Homo sapiens: one gene and its partners. The protein of the gene in region 3 purifies or fractionates together with the protein of the main gene of each other region. This does not show direct contact. Each region holds a gene or a part of one and is shown on either strand. Other genes may lie near its edges.

Evidence for each region.
Region 1: the proteins of RPIA (region 3) and POTEE purify together in Homo sapiens (affinity purification with mass spectrometry; one large-scale study listed by BioGRID and IntAct). This does not show direct contact.
Region 2: the proteins of RPIA (region 3) and PEPD fractionate together in Homo sapiens (co-fractionation; one large-scale study listed by BioGRID). This does not show direct contact.
Region 4: the proteins of RPIA (region 3) and TTC4 purify together in Homo sapiens (co-immunoprecipitation; one large-scale study listed by IntAct). This does not show direct contact.
Region 5: the proteins of RPIA (region 3) and WARS2 fractionate together in Homo sapiens (co-fractionation; one large-scale study listed by BioGRID). This does not show direct contact.
Region 6: the proteins of RPIA (region 3) and CELF1 fractionate together in Homo sapiens (co-fractionation; one large-scale study listed by BioGRID). This does not show direct contact.

What each region holds. Positions count from the first base shown.
Region 1 is NC_000002.12:131,216,036-131,219,535, reverse strand, and holds part of POTEE (POTE ankyrin domain family member E), read right to left. Parts: intron 1,948-3,500; 5' UTR 1,853-1,947; exon of another isoform or gene 1,227-1,852; 5' UTR 1,134-1,226; coding exon 613-1,133; intron 1-612.
Region 2 is NC_000019.10:33,410,292-33,413,791, forward strand, and holds part of PEPD (xaa-Pro dipeptidase), read right to left. Parts: intron 3,353-3,500; coding exon 3,284-3,352; intron 1,459-3,283; coding exon 1,381-1,458; intron 1-1,380. UniProt on the Homo sapiens protein: Dipeptidase that catalyzes the hydrolysis of dipeptides with a prolyl (Xaa-Pro) or hydroxyprolyl residue in the C-terminal position.
Region 3 is NC_000002.12:88,747,173-88,750,672, reverse strand, and holds part of RPIA (ribose-5-phosphate isomerase), read right to left. Parts: intron 693-3,500; coding exon 595-692; 3' UTR 1-594. UniProt on the Homo sapiens protein: Catalyzes the reversible conversion of ribose-5-phosphate to ribulose 5-phosphate and participates in the first step of the non-oxidative branch of the pentose phosphate pathway.
Region 4 is NC_000001.11:54,729,361-54,732,860, forward strand, and holds part of TTC4 (tetratricopeptide repeat protein 4), read left to right. Parts: intron 1-2,125; coding exon 2,126-2,340; intron 2,341-3,500.
Region 5 is NC_000001.11:119,134,154-119,137,653, forward strand, and holds part of WARS2 (tryptophan--tRNA ligase, mitochondrial isoform 1 precursor), read right to left. Parts: intron 1-3,500. UniProt on the Homo sapiens protein: Catalyzes the attachment of tryptophan to tRNA(Trp) in a two-step reaction: tryptophan is first activated by ATP to form Trp-AMP and then transferred to the acceptor end of tRNA(Trp).
Region 6 is NC_000011.10:47,473,133-47,476,632, forward strand, and holds part of CELF1 (CUGBP Elav-like family member 1), read right to left. Parts: intron 2,390-3,500; coding exon 2,204-2,389; intron 100-2,203; coding exon 1-99. UniProt on the Homo sapiens protein: RNA-binding protein implicated in the regulation of several post-transcriptional events. Involved in pre-mRNA alternative splicing, mRNA translation and stability.

The DNA of each region.
Region 1 (3,500 bases), about 42 Mb from region 3:
GTCTCGATCTCCTGACCTCGTGATCCGCCCGCCTCCCAAAGTGCTGGGATTACAGGCGTGAGCCACCGCGCCCAGCCAAAAAGCTCACATCTTAAGAAAATTCAATCTTCCTGTTCAAGCACAGGAACCATCTTCCCATTTCAGTTTCCTTCTAAGGTTCCTCAGTAAAGAACATATTTACATACTGTACATTGATATAAAATCCATACTGGATTTTATTTGAAGAATATTTAGCCCTGAAGTTGATGTGTTATGGGGCTTTGTTCTTAGTTCTCAATATACACTTTTCTATAATGTATAGAACATTGTTTTAAAATCTGTAGATTAAAAATAATCTGCTGCATTGACTTAATTAATTTTGCAAGTTAAATCACTTTAAAACAGTCTATTAGTGTTCTATGAGGGAAATTATGATTGGAAATCAGCTAAAGTTTTGTTTTTGTGTTGCTGTTCATAAAGGGCCCTGTACCCTGACCTCTCTGAGGTTTCCACATCCAGGGTGGTGTGAGGCCTGCGGAGGCGAGAAAGCCAGGTCCCCCTCCTCCCCCGCCAGGAGGGTATGTCCCCATCATCCCCCCACGTCCCACCTCCTCCCAGCCCAGGCCTGGTTACCTCTTTTGCTTGTCCTTCTTGTTCACGTCAGTGTCCCTGAGCATGACGATGAGATCCTTTCTGGGGACTTTACCCCACCAGGCAGCTCTGTGGAGCTTGTCCAGATCTTCTCCACGGACGTGGTACCTGGGCTCCATGAAGGCGCTGTCATCGTAGTCTCCCCAAGCGCCCACCTTGCTCTTGCCGCTCCCCCTGCAGCAGGGGAAGCAGTGGCAGCACCACTTCCCCATCTTGTTCCTGAGTGTCTTCATAGCAGAGTCGTCGTGGTCTCCAGAAGCGCCCACGTTGCTCTTGCCACTCCCCCTGCAGCAGGGGAAGCAGTGGTGGCACCACTTGCCCATCTTGCTCCTGAGTGTCTTCATAGCAGAGTCGTCGTGGTCTCCAGAAGTGCCCACGTTGCTCTTGCCGCTCTCCCTGTAGCAGGGGAAGCAACGGCAGCACCACTTGCCCATCTTGCTCCTGAGACCAAATGGCTTCTTCACAGAAGAGGCAGCCGGCATGGAATCAACCTCAACCACCATCTGCTTTTAACAGCCAGGAGAAGCCAGTAGTAGCCAACAGATCGCGTCTACCAACCAGTTTCACCAACTAGCAGGTAACTCCGGGTTTCCAATCTGTTTGAAGAGAAATGTCAATCCCAGCCAAAACCTGCCAACCCCAGCAGGGGATTCCAGCCCAGCCCACCCCACCCAGGGAAAACCCACACCCACCCGAGGAAAGCCCACGCCCCCCCTGGGCGACCCCACGCCCACCCCAGAAAGGGCCAACCCCAGAAAGGGCCAACCCCCGCCCCCAAGAAAACACCCAGCCCACCCAAGGGAATGCCAAACCCAGCAGAGAAAAGGTCAAGCCCAGCAAAGGAACACGAGAGAGAAAACGTCAATCCAAGCAGGAAACGTCAATCCAAGCTACCAACGCCAAGCCAAGCCAAGAACGCAAAGCCAAGCCAAGCCGCTACAGGCCAGCCAAGCCGTTAAAGCGCGTGCAGCATGCGCGTGCAAGCCATTACAGGCCAGCCAAGCCGTTACGCGCGTGCGGCGTGCGCGTGCAAGCCGTTACAGGCCGGCCAAACCGTTATGCGCGTGCGGCGTGCGCGTGCAAGCCGTTACAAGCCAGCAAGCTGCTGCCGGGCGTGCGCGTGCGCGTGCGGCGTGCGCGTGCGGCGTGCGGCGTGCGGCGTGCTTATCTCAGGTGGCGTCAGGGCACGTGGCACAGACACTGGCCGATGCATGCAACGCGCCTGCTTAAGTCTTGGCGCCACGAATGTCACTGACAGCCTTGAGTTCCGGCAAACTTCGTGGGAGTCAGCTGAGCTTTCAAGCCACTGAGAAGCCTCTGGTGAAAAAAAAAAAAGCCTCTTAAAGGAGGACTGGGGCTAAGCGTCTGGAACTTGAGGATGCTGACAGCCTCCTTTGAAAAAAGCCCCCAGGACACTCCTGGCGGTGCTGTTGTGCATGGCAGCAGCTGCAGCTGGGAGCTCGGGCTGACGGAGCTGGCTGCAAATGGCCTCAAAATCGCGGAGCACAAGACGCCCACCGAGCCCAGGGCCTGCCTGAGGTGCCTTCAACACCTGCTCCTCTTTGCTCCGCACCCAGAACACGAGGCCATCAGCAAGGGGGCATTTGGGGCCACAGGATTGCAGCCAGCTCCTGCCCCGGTGCAGTGTATACAGTGTATACTGCACAGGTGTTGGGTGCACCAAAATCTCCTGAATCACCTCTAAAGAACTTACTCATATAATCAAACACCACCTTTTCCCCAAAACCCTAGGAAATAAAATGAAGAACTTTTTGTTTATGCATACCACATATTTTTTAACTTTTTTCACAGGTTCATTGAGATACAATTTATATATTATTTAATTCACTCATTTAAAGTATAAAATTCAGTTTTTTAAGTGTATTAACTAGTTAAACAATCACCACGATTTTAGAACATTTTTATGCTCCTTAAAAGAAACTTTGCACCCATTAGCAATCTTTCCCTATTTTCCCCATTCTTCCTTTAAACCTCTCCCAGCCCTAGGCAATCATCCATCTACTTCCTAAGAATTTGCCTATTCTGGAAGGATTTGCCTATTCTGGACATTTCATGTAAGTGGAATCATAATAATATAGTTACGTGTGACTTACTACTTTCATTTATCATGTTTTCAATGTTCATCCTTTTTGGAGCATGTATTAATATGTTTTTCTTTTTCATTGCCAAGTAATATTTTATTTTATGGACAGACCACATTTTATTAATCCACTCCAAAATTCATGGACATTTCTGTTGTTTCCTACTTTTTGTTGCTATAAATACCTTTATGTGTAAGGCATTTGTTTTAATTTATTTTTGGTGTATACATAGGAGTGAATTTACTGAGTCATGTGGTAATTCTGTATTTAACCTTTGAAGAACGGCTTCATTTTTCTGCATGTGGCTTGCCAATTATACCAGCAGCATATGTTGAATAGGGTGTCCTTTCCCATTTTCTTGTTTGCTTTGTCAAAGATTAGGTAGTCTGATGCCTCCAGGTTTGTTCTTTTTGCTAAAGATTGCTTTGGTTTTTCAGCATCTTTTGTGGTTCCATTCAGATTTTAGGACTAATTTTTCTATTTCTGTGAAGAATGACATTGGAATTTGACAGCGGTTGCATTTAATCTGTAGAATGCTTTGAGTAGCATTGAAATTTTGACAATATTAATTTTTTCAGTTGACAAATATAGGACTTTTTCTATTTGTCACTTTCAATTTCTTTCATCAATGTGCTATAATTTTCAGTATACAAATCGTTCACATCCTTCATTAAAATTACTCCTTGCTCTTTGATTTACTTATATATTTGTTTTGTTGCTATTATAAATGGAATTACCTTATTTTTCAGATAACAGTTTGTCATTGGT
Region 2 (3,500 bases), on a different chromosome or scaffold from region 3:
CAGCTATGGACCTGGGTGAGCGGGGAGCCCGGGCAGTCTCAGTAGGCCATGTGCCCAAGGGCAGGGAGGACCCCGAGACTGAGTGTGTTCCTGCAAATACTCGGCCCTGACAGCTCAACGCTCGGCAGCTCTCTGGGCAGCTGGTTGTCTGTCCATAGGTCTGGGCATGTGTGTTCCTGTCCTTCAGTGGGCATGGCTGGGGACTCTGGGGGGTGGGCTCCCACGACTACCTGCTGTAGGGTGAGGCGGGGTCCAGGCCGGTGAGCAGCCATCATGGGAACTCCCGCTGGAGGAGCTGGCACATTGGGGTGGCTCCTCGATGGGAAGGCGGAGGCAGCCCAGCTGGGCGCCACGCAGGCCTCAGAGGACATGCCATGCTGCTGGGGGGCAGAGGGCTCTGCAGGAGGCTTGTTCGGGTGCATCTGCCATAGAAGAAAGGGCACCAAAGAACTGGGAGGGACAAGGCACATCCTCTGCTAGTCAGTGACCACAGTGAAATGTCTGGAGGCCAAGACAGGGCCTGCGTGGCTGTGGCTGAGCCCCAGGGCTCCAGCACTGGGGTAGCTCTCAGGAGCTCTGCACTGCCTGGGCTGGCCCTGGCTGACATCTGACGTGCAGGGCACAGGCAAAGAACGCGGAGGGACTGAGCAGAGGCCAGGCTGCAAGTACTCACACACCTCCTCCCTGCCCCGGGGCAGCGGCCCAGCTGCTCTGCCCTGCACACCGAGGGGCTGTGGGTAGGACTGCAAGTCCTCCAATGAGAGAAAAGACTACCCGAGGGGCGGAGGCCGCAGGGCCTGCCCACATCTCCTTGTCGTGGCTTCTATGAAGAACTGTGAGCACGGCACATCGTGCTCAGGAAAGCCCTGCACGCAGCCACGGGTCAGCACTGCTGACTTGCTGAACGCAGGGCCGCAGAGGCCACGGGCTCCTGCAGCAGGAGGATGGCAGGTTTCAGAGCGTGGGAGGCTCCCTGCGGTCTTCCCAGCTCCAGACCAAGAGGCCTGCCCTCCTGGCACCAAGACAGAAAGATGCGAGCGTGGTGCCCCCTGAACGGAGAGGACAGCCTGGACAGAGGCTGGGGATGGTTCAGGCCCCCTCAGAGAGCCCACAATCCCATGGCCCACAGGAAACCATCGGGGGCCCCTCTCCTGCACCCTCTCTCTCAGTGCTCCCTGGGGGGTGCAGGCTTTTGGCCCTGGAGAAGGCACCACGCAGGCCGATAGCCTTGGCAGAGAAGTCTGGGCCAAGAAGCCCAGGGACTTGCTGTGGTCAGCCCTCTCAGGACAGGGACCCAGAGGCTTCTGGGCCATCTTGAAGTTGAGTCCAACCTTGGCCTGGCTGTTCACACACAGAGCCAGGGCCGCTGGCCCTACTTACCACATATCCCCATTCTGGATCGTTCGGTCGTTGGGAGCTCCGGCGTGTCCGTAGTGTAGCACGGCTGAGTTCTCACCACTGCAAAGAGCCGGGGGAGGGTGATCAAAGCCCATTCTTCTGCAGCAGGCTCTGAAGGAGGGGGTGGATGCTCGATCCCCTGCCCATGAGCAGCACTGTCCCCACCTCCAGCACAGGCCCAGGCGTGGCTGGACCAGGTCCACAGCCAGAGGTAAGGCCGGGGGACATGGTGGCCCTGTCACCCCGCAGTCACATGGCTGGCAACCAGCCTCAGTCTGCAGGCAGAGCCTCCTGGCTGAAGGCGTCGTTAGGCGGCTGCCCTCTGGGCTGGGATGTGGGCATCATGTGGAACACATGTAAAACTTAGCAATGGGCCGGGTGTGGTGGCTCACGCCTGTCATGCCAGCACTTTGGGAGGCCAAGAAAGGCAGATCACTTGAGCCCACAAGTTCGAGACCAGCCTGGGCAACATGGCGAAACCCTACCTCTACAGAAAATGCAAAAAAAATTAGCTGGGTTAGGTGGCTCACAGCTGTAATCCCAGTTACTCAGGAGGCTGAGCTAGGAGGATCACCTGAGCCTGGGAAGTGGAGACTGCAATGAGCTATGATCATGCCACCGCACTCCAGCCTGGGCAAAAGAGGGAGACCCTGTCTTTAAATTAAAAAAAGAGCAAAAAAGGGGAACAGCAGTTCCTGGGCCTGGAGAAGGGCCCTACGGAACCCCTCCTTTCCTGGTGGCCAAAGGGGAGAGGGCCTCTATGGAAAGGGCCCCGGCTGTCCTGGAGCTGCCCTGGCGTCCTGACCAGGCTGGAGAGAGAGGAAACCAAGAGGATCCTCGCTCCTCTGCCTGAGAAGGCTTCCCTAATGAGCGATGCCTTTAAGAAAAAAAGGACTTTTAAGTCTGTCCAAAGGGGGGAAGGAAACCCCCACCTGGGTGTAATATTTATGGCCCTGCTCAGGAGTCTTGGGAATCATAAAAGTAGAAATAATGGTTTTCTCTCCATCCACCAGAGAAGAACATTTCCAAGGACTGAGATTTCACATGTATTATTCATGTGCCGGGGACGTGCGCATTGGCAGAGCTGCCTGGCTCCATCCTGGCCGGGCAGGGGCCAGACCCGAGGGGCAGAGAGCAGGGAGACTGGCTGGGAGAGCGCAGGAGACGAGGGGGCCACGCCCACAGCCAGGACGCATGTGGGGGCAGACACACCCCAAGGGACACATGCCGCTGTGCATGGCCCACACAGCATGGCAATGATCCCATATCACTGTCATTTCTACCATGTGTGTGCCTCCAAGCACACCCAGCCAGGTGTTGATGGCACACACCCAAGCGCACACACCCACACAGAGCCCTGCCCCTCGGCACCATGTGCCACGAGCAGGCACACCAACAGTGACATGCACACCCACATACAGCAGCACTGGTCCCCACGCAGCCACACCCACATAGACACACCACCACCACTTTCTGCACTGACCCTTCCACACTCCACCCCTGCTGCACACAGAAGCTGCCCAGCCTGAGCTCACAGCCCGGTCCCCACATGCTGTGTGTGTGCCCGTGTGGAGGAGTGGCCTTCCTGTGCTTAGCTGCTGTGCTGACCAGCTGGGGACAGGAGGGAGGGGACGCCAAGCAGCCCCTCTGCAGTGGGCAGGCCATGCTCCCTCCTTCACCCAGTGCCAGGTCCTGCAGGCAGAGGCCACCTCAGCTCCGGGAGTCTTGGGAGGGAGGAGCGACTTCCAAGCTTGGGCCGGGCGCTGGTGTGGGCGTGTGAGTGAGCAAGTGTGGCTGAGCTGGGGGATGGTGGAGCCCCCCACTCACTAACTGCCCTACCTCCTCCCACTGGTCACCCCCAGGGGAGCCAGGGTGCCCCGCTTACCTGCCGCAGATGCAGGTGTAGGAGCTGTGGCGCATGCCGCCCCGGGAGTAGCAGTAGTGCTCGAAGAGGCTGCAGGGGGAGAGACGCGTCAGGGTTGGGGCACTAGAGCAGGCACACCCCACTCCACGAGCCCCATGAACCCCAAGGGAAGGCCCTCGGCCCATGGTCTCCCCTGCCGTGGCCCCACAATGGTCCAAACTCTCAGTGTGAGTCTGTG
Region 3 (3,500 bases):
TCTCCCTGACAGCTTACATTCCAAGTCATTCCATACCATACCGCTCCACTCCACAGTTTTATAAACCTGATCTTAAGATGTAACTAGGTACTATGTGTGCTCACAATAAAAACTAACTAAAAACAAATCAGAGGGTAGCAGACAAGTAAACAAAGTTTCCAGTAAGGCATCAGGAGATCACTGCTGGTGGGCCCCTCACTTTACCAGCTTAAAGAAGTTTTGATTTTTATTTCTCAGCAAACTCAATATTCAGAAGCTTTACCAGCAGACTCAAGTCAAAGGTTTTAAATACAGTTTACCTCATTTTTTTTTTTTGGTAAATATTTCATATAAAACATGAACTCAAGTTCTACTTCATTTAAAAAACTGAATATTTTAATAGTAAAAATATATGTTTATATTTCTCTTTTTAAAAAGACATTTAATAACAATACTTCATAAGACTGGATTTAACTCCCCCTCCCACTCTTCCCCCCACCCCCCACCACAAGTTGTCCAGGCAGAGATACATTAAGGCAAAGGCTCCTGGAGAGGTACGTCCACCTTGGCTGTGGGCTGGAGACTCAAGGTGAACACACTCTGCTCCTTGCAGGGTCAACAGAAAGGCTTCTCCCTCATGTTCACTGAGCCATCCTGCATCCCAAAGTAGACTCTCTCAGCCATGTTGATGAATAGGCCTGTGTCCACCACACCTGCAGGACAAAGGACAGAAAGAAACATTGTTTCAGCCTCCCAAAGCAAAAAGAGACTCAAAGACTGCAGGGTCACTAGAAGCAACTGTCATACACAGCATTGGACGAATGACAAATCTAAAGCCTTTTTCTCCCACAGAGCAATGAAAAGAGATTCTGATTATCTTAATTTCTTCTTGCCACCTCTTTCTCCCCTCCCACTTTGGCCTTCTTTCTGTACCCAAACATGCTAAGCTTTGTCCTGCCCTGAGGCCTTTGTTCATGCTGTTCCCTCTGCCTGAGCCAGTCATTGTCAAGCACTTCAAGGGGCTGGCTCAGCTCTGTCCTTCAGACATATCAGATGGCAAGTCATCCTCTAGAGACCCTCCATGACTACTCCAGCCAAGGAGCCCCACTACCAGTTATTTTCAATCATACCACCAGCCTTGAAAGATTTCCTCGGAATGGGAGGAGATATTTGCAAAGCATATACCTGACAAAGGACTCATATCAAAAATATAAACAATTTATAAATCATCAAGAAAAAGACAGAATCCCCATAGAAAAATGGGCAAAAGACTTGAAGAAGTACCTCACAAAAGAAGCTACCCAAAATGGCCAATAAACATTTTAAAAGATGCTCAAAATCATTCACTGAAAGGAAATACAAATTAATATTACAAGATATCACTACACACACACTGAAGTCAGTGTAATGAAATTCTGCTGGGATGCAAAGACACTCATACGCATTGATGGTGAAAGCTGAGCTGGCAAAAGCACTTTGGAAATGTTCATCTTCCAAGCTGATGGATTCACACCTAACCACTCAGCAATTCTACTCCTAGATATACAACTGTTAGGCATACATTTGGTCATCAAAAGACATGTGTAAGATGTTGATAGTGGCACTTTTCCTATTAGCTAAAAACTGATAATACCCAAATGTCCATCAAGAGTAGAATAGAGGCTGGGTATGGTGGCTCATGCCTATAATCCCAGCACTTTGGGAATGAAGCCCAGGAGTTCAATGGAGCTCCAGATGGAGCTGATGGAGCCCAGGAGTTCGAGACCAGCCTGGGAAACATAACATAGAGATGGCAGCTCTACAAAAAATACAAAAATTAGCCAAGCATGCTGGCACATGCCTGCAGTCCCAGCTACTCAGGAGGCTGAGGTGGGAGAATCGCCTGAGCCCAGGAGCAGAGGTTGCAGTGAGCCATGATTATGCCACTGTACTACAGCCTGGGTGACAGAGCAAGATCCTGTCTCCAAAAAAAGAAAGAAAGAGAAAAAACTAAAAGAGTAGAATAGATATAAACTTTTTTTCACACACATACAGATGATGGAATATGATTCAGCAGTGAAAATTAACAACTACACACAACCTTTACCAAGAATATTTACATATACTCACACATACTTCAATGACATAACACTTTAACTGTAAGAGAAAAGGTATAATGGACCAGGTATGCAGGGAAACAGATACCTGCACACACTGTTGGTAGAAGGCTAAGTGAATACAAGCTACAGACGGCAATCTGAAACCATCTAACAAAAATCACAGACACATTAATCCTTTCATCCAGTGATTCCCTGCTAGCAAAAATCTGCAAACATAAATGACCACTAGTGGTGATCCAGTTAAGTCATAATGTTACATAGGTAAAGTGGAATACATGCAGGTATTCAGAAAAAAAAGGAACAAGGAAGCTCTTTTATAAGCCAATGTGTAATAATCTCCAAGACAGGCAAGGCAGGAAACAGAACATGTATAAAGCAGGCTACCGCTAGTGTAAAAAGGGGTGGGGCGGGAGGAGTTGCAATTTGTGTGTTTATGAAAGTCTATCTCAAAGGCCACACAATTTTGGTAACACTGGCTGCCTCCAGATAGGGTAACTAGTTGGTTGGAAAAGTGGCAAAGAGGACTTGCCACTGTTTAACTCATAATTTTAAACTACACAAATTCAAAAGGATAAATACAATGAAAACTTGCAGGAAAATGGCAATAGAAGACAGGATTAATGTGCAGCACCCACTTGGACAGACAGAACAGTGTGTGGAGACACACATTGTGAACTTTTGCTCCAAGAACCACCACAGGAACATACCAGGAAAACCAAAAGAATTCACAGACCCTTTGAAAGAAGTGGCTTGCTGCTGCAAACTCCATAAGACAGCCAAAAAACTGTGAGTTCCCAAAGTGTGAGAGGGGGAAAAGTCTGCCTCTGAACATACATCCCCACCGGGGAACCTGAAAAATCCAGATCACAGGAGACGGATTTAATCTTACCTAGAGCTGAAATGGATTTAGAGAGCTGAGCAAACTATAAAAGTAGAAGCAGCAGCAGGAAGAGCCCTGTAGACACTTCCAGTCCCCAGCTTGAGCCCAGGGAAGCCATCCCTGGCTTTATCTCACAGGGGTCCTTCGGGAAAAAAAGGCAGCCAGCAGAACTGGGGAGGGGCCACAGGATGAAGGAAGCTTCTAGCTGAACTTCGTAATAATTTCAACTGAGCACAAATTTTCCTGAGCAGAATCCGGTGGGGGACAAATGGGAAGTGCAGATACAAATGAAGAACCCACAGCCGAAGGTGCAGGCAGGCAGGGAGGGGCGAGGCCTGAGAGGCCTGCTTGCTTTCTCAGTAGGGAGGCCTGTAGTCTGGGGCAAGATCTCAGCCCTGCTCACCATGGTGGGGCATGGCGGGAGTGAAACTGGCCTTGCTGGCTGTGTGGCAGCTGGGTGGGGGTCTGTCACTGCCGGCTTTCTCCTACTTCCCTGGCAGCCTGTATGACGCAGAAGAGGCAGCCATAATCCCCCTGGGAAC
Region 4 (3,500 bases), on a different chromosome or scaffold from region 3:
TTTGGGTTAAGTGTTATTTAAGCTTCACAGTGGCCTTCTGAAATAGGTTGTCTTGCTTCTGTTTTTTTGGATAATAGTTTCAGAGAGGTGAAGAAACCTTACACAGCTAACATGTGTTAGAGCCGGGTCCTTGCTCTTAACCACTGGGTTGTACAGCATCCTGAGAAAGTCTGACATTTTAGGATGTTGTTCCTATAACAACAACAACAATAACAAAATGCCACCCTGTCTTTCTCTTTTCTGTATTTTGAAATATATATAGTCTGACCCAAATCTTGCTTTAACCTTGATACCTAGGGAGTCACCTGTTTGAGATTGTTTGGTCTTAACAAAGGAGAGAATATCTGCTGGGAGATTATGGGATAGGTTTTTTTTTTTTTTGAGATGGAATGTCTCTCTGTCACCCAGGCTGGAGTGCAGTGGTGCAATCTCGGCTCACTGCAGCCTCCACTTCCTGGGTTCAAGCAATTCTGCTTCAGCCTCCCGAGTAGCTGGGACTACAGGTGCACACCACCATGCCCAGCTAATTTTTGTATTTTTAGTAGAGACGGGGTTTCACCATATTGGTCAGGCTGGTCTTGAACTCTTGACCTCAGGCGATCCACCTGCCTTGGCCTCCTATAGTGCTGGGATTATAGGCGTGAGCCACGGTGCCCAACCGGGGTAGGTTTTTTGTTTTATTATTTGTTCAGTTAAATTATGCACCATTTATGTTACTTGTTGACTGTAAGAAACTTAACACTGCTAAAACATACTCCACTATTCCCTCCCCACAACAATCTGTTTACATGTATTAACACGTTAAACAGATTAGAATACTCCAGATTTTCCATCTAATTCTCATTCACAGTGAGGGATTTGTTCGTTTTCTTAATTGTAGAATATGAGATGCCCAGACACCCAGACATTTGCATAAATCCTTTTTTTTTTTTTTTTTGGTTCTCTTCTTTAGTGTAACCCTTCATCTCAAACTTAGCATACATAAGAGTTACTCTCAACAGTACACGAAGCCATGCATGCTGTATTTTACTAATGGTTAAAGGGAGGAGTCAGCAAACTGCAGCCGTTGGAACACAGCCCTGCCTATTTGTTTATGTACTACTTATGGCTGTTTTCACACTACAGTGGCAGAGTTGAGTAGTTAATTTTGACAGAGACCATTGTCCAGAACTCTTAAAATATTTCATATCTAATGCTTTAAGAAAAAGTTTGCTAACCTCCAATTTAGGGGATATCATCAAATCTAATTTTGATTGCATGTCATTTCCCCTCATGTGCTAACCTTAGGCACCCCTGCACACTTACATAAGAGGTGACCCTACTATTTCAGACCCTTAATTTATGCCCATGTCTAGGAGACAGTCAAGATTAAGTCAATGCACACTCTTTCTAGTATTCCATGTCCCAACTAAACTGAAATATTTGACATTTCTTTTTTTTTTTTTTTATCTTTTCTGTCCTTTTGCACTTGCTGCTCGTTGGAGTGGAAGGCTCTTCCTCCCTTCTAAGTGCCCCTCCCTTCCAACTTCTCTGCTTTTCAAAGTCATTGTTCAAGGCCTAGCATATCTCAGTCACCTCCAGCCCCCAAGGCTGAATTAATTATTCCATCGTCTATGGTACTACAACTCCACTTCTTACCTTATATCATCATTATTTCCATAGCTGTCTCACCACTTGATATTGAGCAGAGGCTTGAGGGCAGGTAGCCATGTCTAGTTCTCTGTGACACAGGGTCCAGCACAAGATAGATGCCCAATGAAGGTGAGTTAAGTGGTACCTACTATGTGCCAGGCCTCAGGGATAATGAAGATGGATTGTGTGTAGAGCTGTCCCTCAGGGAGCTCCCATTGTTATGGTGTTTTTTTTTGTTTGTTTGTTTTTTGATGTATTAAAGTTAGTTGTCCATGTTCATTCAGGGTACAGATGAAGAAAATTAAATTAAAAATAAAGTTAGTCGTGCAGCCTGGGCAATATAGTGAAACTCCGTCTCTTCAAAAAATAAAAATAAATAAAAAATAAAAAAATTAGCCAGGCATTATGGTTTCTTTATTTCAGTAAAATGGGTTTGCATCCTCCCACACAATAAGATGTGCATTATGTGTGTGTGTTTCTGTCTTTAACCCAGGCTAGGAATATCAGGCTCTCAGAAGCTGCCTGTGAGGATGAAGATTCAGCCTCAGAAGGTCTAGGTGAGCTTTTCCTGGATGGACTCAGCACTGAGAACCCCCATGGAGCCAGGCTGAGTCTAGATGGCCAGGGCAGGCTGAGCTGGCCTGTGCTCTTTCTGTACCCAGAGTATGCCCAGTCGGACTTCATCTCTGCTTTTCATGAGGACTCCAGGTACTGACTTGCCCAGGAGCCCTCTGCTTTTGCTTGCATGCTGTCTCTGTTTTTGTGGCAGGAGGGACGAGTGGATTTTTGGTTGAGAAGGGAAGATAATGGTTTAGAGGGTTTCACACCATCTGGTTTGATAATAACCTCTCTATCCTGTAGCTGACTGAACCTTGACTAACTAGGTTTGCAACGACAGACAAAAGTCTCATCGTCATACTAACTGGGCTAGTACATGCAACACCACAGTATTGTGTTTGCCAAAGAGTGGTACACATCACTGGTGAAATAGGAAGTCATTTTAGGTAATACATGCATAGCAATTTAAGTGAATATTAATTAGAAAAAAAAATATAGAGGCTGGGCGCTGTGGCTTATGCCTGTAATCCCAGCACTTTGGGAGGCCGAGTCAGGCAGATTACTTGAGGCCAGGAGTTCGAGACCAGCCTGGCCAACATGGTGAAACCCAGTCTCTACTAAAAATACAAAAAATTAGCTGGGCATCTGTAATATCAGCTACTCAGGAGGCTGAGGCATGAGAATCACTTGAACCTGGGAGGTGGAGGGTGCAGTGAGCCGAGATCATGCCACTACACTCCAGCCTGGGTGACAAAGCAAGACTCTGTCTCAAAAAAAAAAAAAAATAAAAAAGAGATATATGTATGTCTTTGATAGATATGTATATATATCAGACTTAACTTGTGATTTCATAGGGTTAATGTGTAGAATGAGTCTAAGTGTAAGAGTGTAAGAAAAGTTTTTTTGTAATTTTTTTTTTTTTTTTGGAGACCAAGTCTCGCTCTGTTGCCCAGGCTGGAGTGCAGTGGCATGATTATGGTTCATCACAGCCTCCAGCCCCCAGGCTCAGGTGATCCTCCTGCCTCAGCCTCTCAAGTAGCTGGGACTACAGGTGAACATCACCACATCTGGGTAATTTTTTAATTCTTTGGTAGACACAGAGTCTCTCTATGTTGCCCAGGCTTGTCTTGAACTCCTGGGCTCGAATGTTCCTCCCACCTCGGCCTCCCAAAGTGCTGGGATTTACAGGCATGAGCCACTGCACCCTACCAGAAATGTTTTTAACCTTGAAGCTGTTTAAAGAAAATTATGTCAGCTGGGCATGGTGGCTCATGCCTGTAATCCCAACACTTTGGGAGGCCAAGACAGGA
Region 5 (3,500 bases), on a different chromosome or scaffold from region 3:
CACAATCAGAACATGAAGATAAGAATGTGAAGGAGAAACTGACATTCTTGCATGCTGTTTGGTGCATCCACAAAGAATGCAAAAGATGTAGAAGTGGAAGTTGTAAGAATATCCATGAATTAAAAATCAGATTGGCTTCACTCTGCTTTTTAGGAGGCAAAGGGGCAAAAAAAAAAAAAAAAAAAAAACAAAGACAAAAACAAAAAACAGTTCTTTAGTCAACCAGAAGTCGGTTCAATTAGAACTTTCTCAATTAGAAATGGAGCAGTAGCTCTAGAAAAAAAACAGAAGACTGTGTGGCAAGAAAAAAAGAAAGCTACAGATGAATTTTGGTTAATGAGTAGAAACCTAACAGAACTCAGGTGATGGGTCAGTGCAAGGACCTATAAATGACCTTGCTATGCTCAGTAAGCAGAGAAGTTCAGGAAATCTGTGAAGCCTCTGAACTGGAGAAAAAAAAGATAGAATATTGTCAAGAAATGGTAGAGAGAGAAAACTAAATGCCTGAGCAGAGTTAAATTAAGTCAAGCTGGAGTCAGCATATCATCTCTGTGCCTATAAATTATCTCTAGGCATCTAGGGTCTCACAGTGTGGCTGAGCAGCTTCTACCCTAAAGGAGTAAATTTCTCTGTTGAAATTTAGGAGAAAGATTTAGGCCTCATATTGTAATCTTCAGAAGAGAAACTCTTGAACTCTTGAATGGTGGTATTAGAATAGAGTCAAGAAAAGAACTAGAGTAAGTGTTCTCTGTGAGGAGGCTAGAGGCTAGGTTAGTTACAACAGTGACAGACTGAATCCAAAGCATTATCTTTGGGCACAAAGATCAGCATGTTTGGCAGCAGTAAGCTGTAAAAAAGAAAGAAGGCAAGAAAAGGAAAGAAAGTTGTTTGACTGCTATTATCTCATGTACTCTTATGTAGCTTAAGATCAATAGAATACTGTATTGTAGTTATAAAATATATACACATCAAAGTAAATACTCTCAAACCACTCATTTACGGTGCAGCTCCTTAAAAATAATCCATCCATCATATGTGGTCCTGATCAACAAACTTACTTAGATATTTATGGAAGCTGCAGTATTTTTCAAACTACATCTTAAGAAATCCAAAATTGTGTGGCACTGTCTCAGGAGCCCCTGGGTTGTGGAGTGGGGCGGGTAATGGGGGAGAGGGAAATCAAACAAGCAGGGCTAAAAATACTCCTCTGCTTCTTAAATCAGAAAAGCTTTGCTTTTATCTGTTTTATATAACAGGGATTCATGTAAGATTTCATTTGATAAAAGACTACTGGTAAGGTGGGAAAAGCATAGGCAAGACTAGGTTTGAACTGTGTCACTGCTATTTACTTACTCTGTGACTTGGGAAAATTACCTAAACTCTCTGAATCTTAGTTTCCTCTTTTATAAAATGGGATGAATAATATTTACAAATTGTTGTATGAAGTAAATAAGATAAAGTATGTAAAACACATACCATGAGACTTTAGCACATAGCAGGCACTAGCTGTTAGTTCCTTTTCTGAAAGACATGGAATATAGAGATAGATAGATTAGATAGACAGATAGATAGATAGATAGATAGATAGATAGATAGATAGAGAGATAGAGAGAGAGAGAGAGATGGGTTTTGGGGTTTTTTTGTTTGTTGGTTTTTCAGACAGGATCTTAACTGTGTAGTGGCACAATCGCTGCTCACTGAAGCCTTCCTGGGCTCAGGTGATTCTCCTACCTCAGTCTCCTGACTAGCTGGGACTACAGGCATATGCCACTAAGCCCAGCTAATTTTTTGAATTTTTTATAGAGACAAGGTCTCACTATGTTGCCCAGGTTGGTCTGAAATTCCTAAGCTCAAGAAATACACCTGCTTCGGCCTCCCAAAGTGCTGGGATTACAGGCGTCAGCCACCGTGCTTGGCCAATAGATGTTTAAATAAATAAATAAATAAATTTGTATAAAAAATATATATTTGTCTGTGTGTGTGTGTGTGTGTACATATAGTTGTAGAAGCTTCTGCAGACAGCTCTTCTGTAACTTGCAGTCATTCGAAAGATATACTGAGCAAGAATTTGGAGGTCAGCAGCATCACTCTCTTCAGCATTTCCAGGCCATGGCTGCCGTACTATCTGCTAGCATAAATCCTCAGCATTCAGCTACAGTTCTTCCTTCCTCTATATTTTCAACAGTTACTATCAGTAGTTTTCATTAGCTCCTCAAAGCTATATTGCAAAGAATTTAAATATTATTATCATTTTAATAAACTAGGTCAGTTCACAAAAGCAACCAACCACAAAAGCACTTTAAACAAATAAGACTCACCGACTGAGATTAAAAGGAGCTTTAGAGTGGATCCACGCAACACCTTTTTTTGCCATGAGAGATGAAGTAACCTCATCAAACTGGCAGAGTAATCAACTAGCAAAATTCCCAGATGATTGTAGTAGCTCTTGAACACATACCATGCTGATTAGCTCATGTTGCATGTTGCATGAACAATACATGGCAGAGAAAAGCTAAAAGTCAGTGGGAACACTATGCCAATTTAATGTCATTAACATTCCAGAAACCTACAATAACAAATACTAATTGCAAAATATGGAATGAAATGCCTACATTAAATCTTACGATCCTAATTCCACCATTGTGTGACATTGGGCAAGTTACTTAACCAAAGACTATTTCTTCACGTTTGAAATAAGGTGGCAATACCTGCCTCAAGGCCTTGTTATGAACAATATCTCTTCGTGGTATTCTTGCCAAAAATCCATAACCTCAGTCTAAACACAAAGAAAAATCAGACAAACCTAAACTGAGAGACATTCTACAAAATAACTGACTGGTTCTCTTCAAAAGTGCCAAGGTCATGAAGGAGAAAATGTATGCATTAGAAGAGACATGAAAGCTAAATGCATTGTGGGACCCTGGATTTGATCTTGGACTAAGGAAAGGGACAGTGAAAAAACTAGTGAAATTTGAACTAAGTCTGTAGCTAAATTACTATTATTGTACCAATATTAATTTCTTGATTTTGATAACTGTATTATGATTATTCAAGACAAAGCTTGGTGAAGGGTATACAGAAATTCTCTGTACTAATTTTGCAACTCTGTAAATCTAAAATTATTTTAAAATTAAAAAAATTTAAATCTTGTGAGAATTAAATACAGGGTCAAAAATTTTAAACCACGCTTTTTTTCTTTTTAGGCGTAATTCTTCATCTAATGGCTATACTTAGCGATAGTTAACAGCAAGAACATTATGTGAATACTGGCCAAACCCAGACTAGGAACCGCTAATAATGAAACATGTTCAACTGCAATAAAATGTGGACACTTTATCATACTTCAACTGAATAACAAATACTTTTGCAAAAATCTACTAACCATCAATATTTCACTCTTTGCACAATACAATCATGACTTAGTGCTTAAAGAAGTATGGATTCTGTGTTTGGCCAATGATGACAGGCTTAAATTTACCTAATACCATCAACATTTAAAC
Region 6 (3,500 bases), on a different chromosome or scaffold from region 3:
CAGACACGACATTCCCAAAGGGCATAAACATCTGCAGCAGGTCCTGATCACCAAACTCCTGGGGCAGGTGGTAGATGAACAGGTTGGCTCCCTCTGGACCTTCAAAATACCCAGGAATTGGAAAAGTATCAGTGTCAAACATGCTCGTCGCCCTGCACCAGTGATCTTTCATTTCCACCTATGTTAAAACTGTCACAATCCCTAAAAACAGAGATTCATCTGGGGAACTAAACAGATTCTCTAAATACAAAGCAAGGAACCAAAGGCAAACATTAAAACAGATTCCTTCCCTCACATTCAGCCAAGCTCCATCTCATTGAGGATGTGAGAAATTCTACCCGCAGGAGGAGGAGTGTTGGGATAATAAAGCAGGCCGACTTGTGTGTGGAGCAGGAAAACAGAGACTGTAGGCTCAGAGAGGAACACAGAAGAGGAGGTGAAAAGGGGTTATAAACAAAACAGGTTTCCAAATAATGCCTAGAAACCACAGGGACAGCAAACAGATTGGTAGTTGCCAGATGCAGGGAATGACTACAAAGGGGCACGAGGGAATTTCTAGGGGTGATGGAAATGTTCCTAATCTGTGGTGATGGTTGCAGGACTAGGACTGTTTGTCAATACTCATATAGCTGTATGCCAAAATCAGTGAGTTTCATCATATGTAAATGGGAAAATAAGAAATTAGTTTTAAAAATGCACCCATGATTAACACTGAGCTTAAAAACAGAATATACATTCTTCATCTGACTATTTACACTCAATGATTTTCTTTTTTTTTCTTTCTTTTTTTTTGAGATAGAGGCTCACTCTGTTGCCCAGGTTGGAGTGCAGTGGCGTGAACTCAGGTCACTGCAACCTCCGCCTCCCGGGTTCAAGCAATTCTCCTGCCTCAGCCTCCCGAGTAGCTGGGATTACAGGCAGGCGCCACCATGCCTGGCGTATTTTTAGTAGCGATGGGGTTTCACCATGTTGGTCAGGCTGGTCTCGAACTCCTGATCTCATGATCTGCCTGCCTTGGCCTCTCAAAGTGCTGGGATTACAGGCGCGAGCCACTGCGCCCAGCCTACTCAATGATTTTCTAACCAAAAAGCTTTATTACAATTGCAGTCCAGCCATTCTCCAGCCACCCTGGCCTCCCTGTTTTTTTCAAACACATCAGGGAACATTGCTGCCTCAGGGCCTCTGTACTTGCTTTTCCTATGCCCCTGTTACTCTTCTTTCTCTAGATTCAGGCATGACTTGCTTCCTACTTCCTTCAGTTCTCTGCTTAAATGTCAATCTAGAGAGACATTCTCTGAGCATTCTGCATAAAATGCAGTGCCTCTGACACTCCCTATCTCTCTTCCCGGCTTGTCATTCTCCAGAGGATCATCTGAAACACCTCATGCTTTCATTTATTTATTGTCTGTCTCCACAGTCTCCACTAAAATATTGGTTCACGCTACATTCTCCTACTACCACATCCCTAGGGGATATAAGTGATTCACAGCAGGTGAGGAGAGATGAACCAGGACTTTCTGCTGTGACAAGAGGACACTCATCTTTTTCCTACATTAGTGCTTATACCAGCTCCTGGTTATAAAAACCCAGTCAAATCTGAGCACAGAGGTGTCAGCAGGACCTTCTATTCATGTAAGTCACCTTCAGGCCTCTTTCTGGCTAAAGAGTCTCTCCTATTTTTCTCCTAAATTGAATACCATTTGTGTCAAACGACATACTTCCCACTCCATCAACTCATGGGCCAAACTCTGTCCCATCACCCCTCAGTTTGTCTTCAATCAGGACAAACATCAATCAGAAAGTGAGGAAAATGCCAAATGATATAGCTAAAAGGGACACTGAAACAGAAGACATCCAGACAGAAGATCCTCTGATAGATTTGTAATCTGTAGAGAAGACCTCCTAACAGAAACATTCTTGTCAAATGTGTCAGACCCGATAAGGTCAGTGTCTGTTGCTTCATCTAAAAACTGCAGCCCCATCCCAAGAGGGCACACAGAGGTTCTGATTTGAGCCACATCCAGAAAACATTTAAAAAGCAGATCACACTTCACAGGGTTTCTCAGTCTACACTTGACACTGTCAAAGAAAAACAATGGTCTGACGACCTAACTGGTTCCCTCAGCCTTTGCTCTGCCTTTCCGTTCTGGTATAGGAGGAAAACCGCCCCCCATACCTGACCCCGATCTCCCTTTGCACTCACCTTCCTTCTGGCTTCCAGCAGCACCAATACTCTGCTGTGTCAGAAGATTCTGGTTGTACAGAGTGGGGAGCGCAGCAGCAGCATATTGCTGGATACCCGAGTAGGCCTGAGTGAGGGCCTCCATGGTGCTCCCGGTGCCATTGGAAAGGCCACTGCTGCCCAGGCCACCATTTAAAGCAGCCATTCCTTGGTTGGAGGAAGAGAAGGATTAATATACTAGAAAGACTAAACTGATGCCAAAGACAAGTCTACTTGGGACATCTAGAAGAGGGAAAACTCCAAAGTTCTCCCCTTTATCTCCCTCTTAGTTTCTCCCTGAGAAGAAACTATCTGACTGGCTAGATTTCAGGACATTCACCAGGCCTTGCTAATGGGGACATTAAGAAATGCCATACGCGGGTGTTGTGCTCCCCATTACCTTCATCCAATCTGTGGAATGAGAGCCTCCATTTTCTATCTGGCTATTCTGCCACTTTCTCATAATGAGCTAGAATGTCATAAAAGAAGAGGCCCAAGACTGCAAACTCAAAGGGGTACATGTGATTTCTGACAAGATGTGGGTGAACCCTACCATTAAAACAGCAACTAACAGGTACTAAGTACATTCTATGTGTCATCTACTGTACTATGCAATGTGCTCAGCAGCACTTTACCTATGTTCTAATTTTTTTTTTTTTTTTTGGAGACAGAGTCTCACTCTGTCACCTAGGTTGGAGTTCAGTGGTACAATCATAGCTCACTGCAGCCTCAAGCTCCCAGGCTCAAGCAATCCTCCCGGCCTCAGCCTCCCAAGTAGCTGGGACTACAGGCATGCACCACTACACCCAGATAATTTTTGTAGAGATGGAGTTCTCACTATGTTGCTCAGGCTGGTCTGGAACTTGTGACCTAGGGTGATCCCCTGCTTTGGCCTCCCAAACTGCTGGGACTATAGGTATGAGCCACTGTACCTGGCCTCATTTAATTTTTAACAATCCTTCAAAGTATTCTATTATTCCCACTTCAAAGATGAGAAAATGTCCTTAGAAAGGTGGTCCGAAGTTATAGCTAGCTAACGGACACAGGTGGGATTTAACTCAGGTCTGATTTAAAAATCCCATGCTTTTTTGAGACGGACTCTCGCTCTGTCACCCAGGCTGGAGTGCAGTGGCGCAATCTTGGCTCACTGCAACTTCTGCCTCCCCGGTTCATGCCATTCTCCTGCCTCAGCCTCCCAAGTAGCTAGGACTACAGGCGCCCGCCACCAGGCCCAGCTAATTTTTTTGTATTTTTAGGGGAGACGGGGTTTCACCGTGTT